Linked DNA regions of Homo sapiens: region 2 is reported to be linked to region 1. Evidence: microRNA targets listed by miRTarBase, many of them from high-throughput screens and not tested one by one. Region 1 holds a microRNA gene; the other region holds the end of a gene's coding sequence.
Evidence for each region. Region 1 holds the annotated microRNA hsa-miR-3064-3p (UUGCCACACUGCAACACCUUACA, at 1,240-1,262, opposite strand). A microRNA usually pairs through its seed, bases 2 to 8, with sites in the 3' UTR of a target mRNA and lowers its output. Matches are read on the target gene's strand: a 7mer-m8 pairs with bases 2 to 8, a 7mer-A1 pairs with bases 2 to 7 and ends in A, and an 8mer does both.

Region 2: the mRNA of MTR is a reported target of hsa-miR-3064-3p. Seed matches in the 3' UTR shown: 7mer-A1 at 1,631-1,637.

The regions. Positions count from the first base shown.
Region 1 is chr17:64,499,536-64,503,604 of GRCh38, forward strand. MIR3064 (microRNA 3064) reads right to left here and starts at 1,304; the gene lies at 1,239-1,304. It overlaps DDX5 (DEAD-box helicase 5), which reads right to left. Exons shown (of 13, transcript NM_004396.5): 6 at 3,895-4,036; 7 at 3,653-3,813; 8 at 3,391-3,563; 9 at 2,904-3,014; 10 at 2,627-2,688; 11 at 2,475-2,534; 12 at 1,014-1,238; 13 at 1-791. The coding sequence ends at 388. It overlaps MIR5047 (microRNA 5047), which reads right to left and starts at 1,778; the gene lies at 1,679-1,778.
Region 2 is chr1:236,897,352-236,901,416 of GRCh38, forward strand. It overlaps MTR (5-methyltetrahydrofolate-homocysteine methyltransferase), which reads left to right. Exons shown (of 33, transcript NM_000254.3): 33 at 207-4,065. The coding sequence ends at 293. Among named protein-coding and RNA genes, the nearest start is that of MTR, 100 kb to the left of the region's middle.

The sequences.
Region 1 (4,069 bases):
CAAACAAAAACAAAAAAAAAACCAGACCATCTTAAGCAAAGTTTTACATGACATTATATAAAATAAAGTACAATTTCCACTTAATTCAGTCTTCAAATATTTTTTATTGGAAGGCCATGCATTGCCTTCATTTATTGTATTTCAAATCACTGTACATTTACTTTTGTGAAAACACTGCCTGCATTTTCTAGTACAAAAAAAACCTAAAAATTGTTTCAGGAATGTAGAGAAATATCCAACTTAAATAGCGAAAAAGTGCACCATAATTACTGCTGCACTGCAGTCATTTCTGCAATTCCCATGTTTCTTAAATAACTATCTTGTCAGATAACACACAATATAAAGAGCAATTATGAAAAACAGACATTTACATATACTTCTAAAGTCTTATTGGGAATATCCTGTTGGCATTGGATAACCAATCATAGGTGCAGCTGCAGTAGCAGGATATGCATATGCCTGTTGGTTCATACCATTGTGCATATTTGGAACATTACTTCCGTATTGCTGAGTGCTATCATAACCATTCTGGTAAGTCCCTGTTGGATTACCAGTCCTAAAACTGGTCTGTATACCAGCAGACACAAAATTACTTCCAAAGCTCCCATTGGTGTAATTTGCAGCACTGTAAACACCATTCTGAGTTTTTGCCCCAAAATCTCTTTTAAGCAGGCTAGAGTAACCTCTGTCATAATTTTCCCTGTCTCTAAAGGTATTAAATCCACCCCTTTTGCCCGCAGAGTATCTGTCCCGACGGTCATCCTTCATGCCTCCTCTACCCCTGGAACGACCTGTCAAGAAAACAATTGCAAATTGATCAATTATGTCTATGACACAAATCATTGTGGACAGAAAGAAACAGATCTATTCATGGTAGGCGTGAAATGTTTTTACAATTTTTCAGCTTAAGTTTTCACATTCAAGGTTTTACTCACCCTCCAATACCATTTAAATGGATTTGTAGACAACGATGTGACTCGTAACTACCAACATTTCCTATCAGTCATCCTTACCTGAACCTCTGTCTTCGACCAACTGAAGCAACTTGGGATTAATTGCTTGATTAGCTTCACGAAGCACAGAGATAAGGTCGCTCACTTGCTTTATGTTATTAGGTGTAAAGAAAGTGTATGCTGTGCCTGTTTTGGTACTGCGAGCAGTTCTTCCAATTCGATGAATATAATCCTCTGAGGAGTTAGGGTAGTCATAATTGATGACAAATTTCACATCTTCCACATCTGTAAGGTGTTGCAGTGTGGCAAAATAGCAATGTACGGAGTTTTGCACACCACAACAGCCAGACCAAAAATAAAAAGTTAGACAATTGTATTCCCAAGAAGGTACGGGCTGCAAAAAATACAGTTAAAATGGTTATCCATTTCCTGTAGGAATACCATTGAGGTTGAAAAAAGAAAAAAAAGCACATGTCATCTGTATAATTCATCACCCACCCAGTGACAGACCCTGTCAAAAGGAATGTGTGTTCCCTAAGCACATTCCCAAATCAGCAAGTTCCCTTACAGATCATCAAGTGACATCTGAATGCTTCTGCGCAGTAGGGCCACTTAAAGTTTCACAGCAACCTCTTCATGTGCTCATTTTGAGGACCTTGAAACAAAAAAATGTACAAGGTCCTTTGCATTACACATTCATCAGAAGTTCAAAATTCTGGCCACACTGCTTGTCTTGCCAAGACCTTACAACCGCAGCTGCAAGAAAACATACCTGTCCCCCAAAAGTTGTTTTTATGCACTGTGTCTCGTCTAGGCAAGCGCTTCCAAGAAGCCAGGATTCACTTGAGAATGTGTCTCTCTCTGGCAGGTCTCGACATGACGACTACTGTGTAGGTGAGGGAGGAACTTTCAAAGCACTTTCTTTTCCCACTTACTATGTGTGAGAAGTTGCTCCTGCTCTAGATCTCATGTGCCAGTACTCACCAATTTGTAAAAGGCTTAGTACCTTTTAAAGCTGCTCTCTCCATTTCAAACTTGAACAAAAATTTCATTGAACATTGAAGTTTGGAACTACTTCTTCGACATTTCAGCAAACTCACTGAAACTCAAAGACCCACAGATCACAGTGAACAGTTTGAAACAAGGCTGTACCATGGCAGTCATGCAAAGCATGGGACAGAAGAAATACCACGGCAGTGAACTGTGAGGATAACTTCCATTTTTTCCCTCGGAGAGAACAGTTTACGGGGCAGAGGTGATATGTTCTGCCTTTTGAAGATTACTGGCACACGTTCAGCTTTTTCACCTCTCTAATCGACTGGAAGCAGCCAGCCGATCACTAGTCCTCCATCCCCCTCGAGTCCTCCGATTGTCATGCCTAGGCCTTGCCACAAAGACAGCACCTTTATGTGAAAAAAAACTTAGAAAAAATGCAGGTTAAAGAAAGCAATAAACTTTCTTTAAAAAAGTTAAATGGAGATCTTCTGGGAAACCAAGCCATGAATGCGAGTTTGTACTAACCTAGCCCTCTGGAGGCCACATCTGTAGCAATCAGAATAGGAGCTTTTCCATGTTTGAATTCTACAAAGGAAGGCATATACATGATCAATTATCTGAGCAGAATTCTAGCTAGGTTAAGTAAGGGGGAAAAATACTTCATTTGAAATATTTACCATTTAGAACCCAGTCACGCTCTTGTTGACTCTTGTCACCATGGATACCCATGGCAGGCCACCTAAGTTAAAAGACAAGTTGTGTTATTAAACTCACATTGAAAACCTCAGACTCCAGTGCTTGACCACTTTTGGTCACAGATCTCTTTAATTTCGCCAGAAATGAAAAAGTTAAATTCACTATCAGATATGAAAAAAATCCACTGCTCGTGATCCAAGTTTGCCCTTTCCTAAGCTGTTTTAATCAATCTGCTTCAATGGAGGAGCTCACACATACCCATCTCTCCTCATTTTTCTGGTAAGCTCATCACATCTTCTTTTGGTTTCCACAAAAACAATGGTTTTATTCTCCTTCTCACTCATGATCTCTTCCATTAGACGAATAAGTCTAATAATAGGAGAGAGAAAGGAAAAATCCTGAGTTTTAAAAGACCATTGCTAGGGCCACACATTTATGGTCAGCAAAACATTAAGTTCAATTTACATGGCTGGAAGTCAAAGAGGAAACGCCTGCTAATCCACTTATCGAGCAGTTCGACCCTTGGTCCTTAAGTCAACCAGGGGACACATGAATTCCTTCTATAGGAAAGCTATAAATGGTGACAGCCATTATTTGAAGGATTCAAGAAATTTTCAGGATTAGTAGGCTAACTAAATGAAATCACACCAACTGAAATAACCTAAAACAACTCACCAAACAATGATCCCTCAATTTTACAGCAAAGTTGTTAGGAAGCAAATATAACAGAGTTAATAAAACTTACTTTTCATCCTTTTCTACGTCATGACACACATCCACAATCTGAAGAATGTTGTGGTTTGCACTCAGTTCAAGTGCACCAATGTTTATATGAATATAGTCTTTCAGGAAATCTTCAGCAAGCTGTCTTACTTCTTTTGGCCAAGTCGCACTCCACATTAGAGTTTGCCTATCAGGCTAATGGATTTTGGGGGGAAAAATTAGTATCAGACTCTTAAGAGTGAAAACACAATTCAGTTTGATCACATATTTCAAAGGACACTTACTCTTATTTGATCCACAATCTTCCTTATTTGGGGTTCAAAGCCCATATCAAGCATTCTATCTGCTTCATCAAGGACAAGGTAGGTTGTTCTTCTCAGATTGGTTTTTCCACACTCTAAAAAGTCAATCAGTCTTCCAGGTGTTGCAATACAGATTTCCACACCTTTAATTAAATACGTAAGTGTAACTACAATACCTAGGATATTTAGCACCAATGACAAATAAAACCCTTTTCATTACATACCTCTCTCCAAATCACGTATTTGTGGTCCCTTAGGAGCACCACCGTAGATACAAGTAGACTTCAAGCGACATGCTCTACAATATTCAGCAGCTACTTGCTGCACCTGTTGGGCCAGTTCCCGAGTTGGTGCCAGCACCAAACACTAAGGAAAGAGAAACAGCTTTCAGCACAAACC
Region 2 (4,065 bases), not on the chromosome of region 1:
TCTAAGCATCAGATGTTTACTACATGTTTTTCTGCCCAGAGAAAAAGGCAACTTGGTAGATAAATATCTATCTCCATTTAACTCTGTAGATTGCTATTAAGACAAGAAATGCAAGGTACTTAATGTTTCTTGGCAAATCTTGTGGAAACTTCTATTCCAAAAGTCTTATCATGTTGGTTTAATAAAATGCTTCTCATCTTTTGCAGGTTGAGGATTATGCATTGAGGAAGAACATATCTGTGGCTGAGGTTGAGAAATGGCTTGGACCCATTTTGGGATATGATACAGACTAACTTTTTTTTTTTTTTTGCCTTTTTTATTCTTGATGATCCTCAAGGAAATACAACCTAGGGTGCCTTAAAAATAACAACAACAAAAAACCTGTGTGCATCTGGCTGACACTTACCTGCTTCTGGTTTTCGAAGACTATTTAGTGGAACCTTGTAGAGGAGCAGGGTCTTCCTGCAGTGCCTGGAAAACAGGCGCTGTTTTTTTGGGACCTTGCGTGAAGAGCAGTGAGCAGGGTTCCTGTGGTTTCCCTGGTCCCTCTGAGATGGGGACAGACTGAAGACAGAGGTCGTTTGATTTCAAAGCAAGTCAACCTGCTTTTTTCTGTTTTTACAGTGGAATCTAGGAGGCCACTTAGTCGTCTTTTTTTCCTCTTAGAAGAAAAGCCTGAAACTGAGTTGAATAGAGAAGTGTGACCCTGTGACAAAATGATACTGTGAGAAATGGGGCATTTTAATCTAAGTGGTTATAACAGTGGATTCTGACGGGGAAGGTGTAGCTCTGTTCTCTTCGGAAGACCTCGTTTTCTAAAGGCTGGACTAAATGGCTGCAGAACTCCCTTTGGCAAAAGGCATGCGCTCACTGCTTGCTTGTCAGAAACACTGAAGCCATTTGCCCCAGTGTGGTCAAGCAGCCATGCTTTCTGGGCATTTTCGTCCTCCCATAATTTCATATTTCCGTACCCCTGAGGAAACAAAAAGGAAATGAGGAGAGAAAGTTACTGTTAAGGGTGGTTAACATTTTTTTTGTTTTGTTTTGTTTTGGTTTTTTTTTTTTTGAGACAGAGTCTGGCTCTGTCGCCCAGGCTGGAGTGCAGGGGCGCAATCTCGGCTCATAGCAAGCTCCGCCTCCTGGGTTCATGCCATTCTCCTGCCTCAGCCTCCAGAGTAGCTGGGACTACAGGTGCCCGCCACCACACCCGGCTAATTTTTTGTGTTTTTACAAAATACAAAAAAGTAGAGACAGGATTTCACTGTGTTAGCCAGGATGGTCTTGATCTCCCGACCTCGTGATCTGCCCACCTCAGCCTCCCAAAATGCTGGGATTACAGGCGTGAGCCACCGAGCCTGGCCGGTTAACATCTTTTAATTGTTTCCAGGATTGAGCAGGTTCTCAGCTGGGCTCTGATATCCCGTGCGGAGTTGGACAAGTGGGCAGCATAAAGTCACTCATTTCTTACCATTTTATTCCCCTCAATTCTCAATATATTCAGTAATGAAGAATGGTGCCACCACTCAAGCAACAAGCCTCAAACTCAACCATGTCATCTTTTTCTTGGATGATTGCAGTTATTTCAAAAATTTGCATGCAAAATATACACTCATCCTACTTCAAGATGGTGGTGGCAATAGTCAGGAGAAGGTAACATTGGAGTCCTGGTTTGATTCGAAGGATGAAGACGAAGAAGCAAGGGAGGAACAAATGAAGAACCATCTTTGTTCATGAATAGGAATATTCAAGATTATAAAGGTATCAGGTCTCCTAAAATTGATCTATGGATTTAATACCATTTTCAATGGAAATTCCAACAGATTTTATTGAATGAAACAAGCAGGTGTTTATATGGAGTAGCAAAGGACTTAAAATTACCAAATGCTTCTAAATATGAAGGAGAGGTTGGGGACACGCACCCTATGTGATACCAAGTTTTATTGTCAAGACAGTGTCATGGTGCAGAGGTAGGCATTCTGAGCAGGGGAACAAAATAAGGGCCTAGAAACTCACCCGTGCATATGTTGACCTTTGCAAAATGACCTGGTGACATGGCAAGTCAGTGGGGACAGGAAGGACCACTCCCTAAGTAATCCCAGAACAATGGCTATTCATGTGGGAAAAAAAGAAATTTTACTTTCTCTCACCTTACCTGGTGATAAGTTCCAAATATGTTAAGGGCTTTAATACAAAAAGCAAAAATTGTCAGTGTTTGGATGAAAAAAGCCTTAGGGCAGGAAAGAATCTCTTGAGACATAAAGTAGTAATCATAAAGGACAAGATGGTTAAGTCAATTCTGTTAAAACTCAAGGCTTATATTAAGCAAACACTTGAAGTGAGAAGATGATCCACAACTTGAGAAGACATTTATAATACAAATAACTGATGAAGGATTCATAATCACAAATATAGAGAATTCCTATTTAAAAAAATAGAAAAATAGTGAAGACTACACAAGAGGAAATAGGGCTTTTAAATAAATAGATGTTCTGTAGCATTGGTCAGGGAAATATGAATTAGGACCACAATGAGATTCCATTTTATATCCATAAGATTTGCAAAGGTTGGGTCTGACAGTACCAGTTGTTAGATCTGTAGGGACTTGTACAACATTGTGGATGTGTAAACAGGCACCACTGCTTTAAAAAACAATTATCCCTTACAGACTTGAACATTTGCAGACGTTATGATCTTGCTTCCAACTCCCACCTGTATGTCCAGCAAACTCTTGCATGTGGCCACTAGGAGGAATGTGTAAGAATGTTCATAGTTACATATTTATAATAGTTAATAACTGGAAAAAGTGAAATGTATGTCTGTCTACAGGAAAATAGGTGAATAATTAGATATATATATTCATTCTACGGGATATTATTCAGTAGTGGAAATGAGTGAACTACAGCTATACCTCACAATAAGAATGAATCTCAGAAAATATTAAGGAAAAAAGCAAGTTTGAAGAGACCACATGGGGCGTACTATTTTTATTGAGCCCAAAAACAAGCAAAACCAAAGAATATGTAGTCTAAGCATACGTATACAATAAAACTATGCTATTAAAAAAAAAGAAGGTAACTGATAAACCAAAATTGAGCATAGTAATTACCCACAGAAGGAGGAAGTGGAAGGGACAGGAGCACATAGGTAGATGCCAAGTTATGCAGCTGTTCTGGTTCCTCCTGGTAGGCTTACAAGTGTTTACTATATGCTATTAATACATTATACTTTATAACTAATAGATAACAGTTTTTTACATATTAAATATGTTCTACTTAAATATATTATAAAAAATAAAGGCAAAGTGGAATGATAACCTAAAATCTGGTATGGTGATTTTGTAGGTAATGTTTGTATATGTCAAATACAGTTTTTAAGGAAAGGAAGAACATCTTAGGGTAAACAGCAGCTAGAAAGGTGAGGGGCAGGAGAGTGGTGCATCCTTGCTGCTGCCAGCAGTGCCCAGATACCAGGCTTTGGGGAATGAGTGGATGGCTGGACCATTTGCTAAGACAGAGGCCAGGGGATGGGAGAAATGATGAGTTTTGGAAAGATTCGATGTGACTAGACTGAATATAGGCAGTTGGATACTAGACTTTGGAATTTAAAAAGAATGTCTGGAGTTAGAATTGAGAGACTTGAACGTGGAGATGGAGGTCAGGCTGCAGTGCGATGGGATCATCTATGGAGCATATGAGGAGAAGAGAATCTGGAGGAGGAGGAGGGGGAGCCAGCAGGGGAGCAGCTGTGGGTTGGAGGAAGCCAGGAGGGAGAGTGCAATGCCGAGAAAGCAATGAAGAGCGTTTCGAAGCATGCCAGCAGAACCCAATGCTGCAAAGAGGCCTGGGAATGGGATTGCTGAGGGCCCTTCTCACAGTGAGCCCCTCAAGAGCAGCGTCAGGGGATTGTGGGGACTGTTGGCACACAGCTGGCTTTGCTAGGTTGAAGACAATGGGAGGTGTGGAAGACTTGTTGACTCATTTAAAGAAGATTGGAGGGAAAGGTAGGATTGAGAGTGTTTCAGACAGAAAAAGGATTATATGCTGAGGGTAAAGCACAAGTACAGAG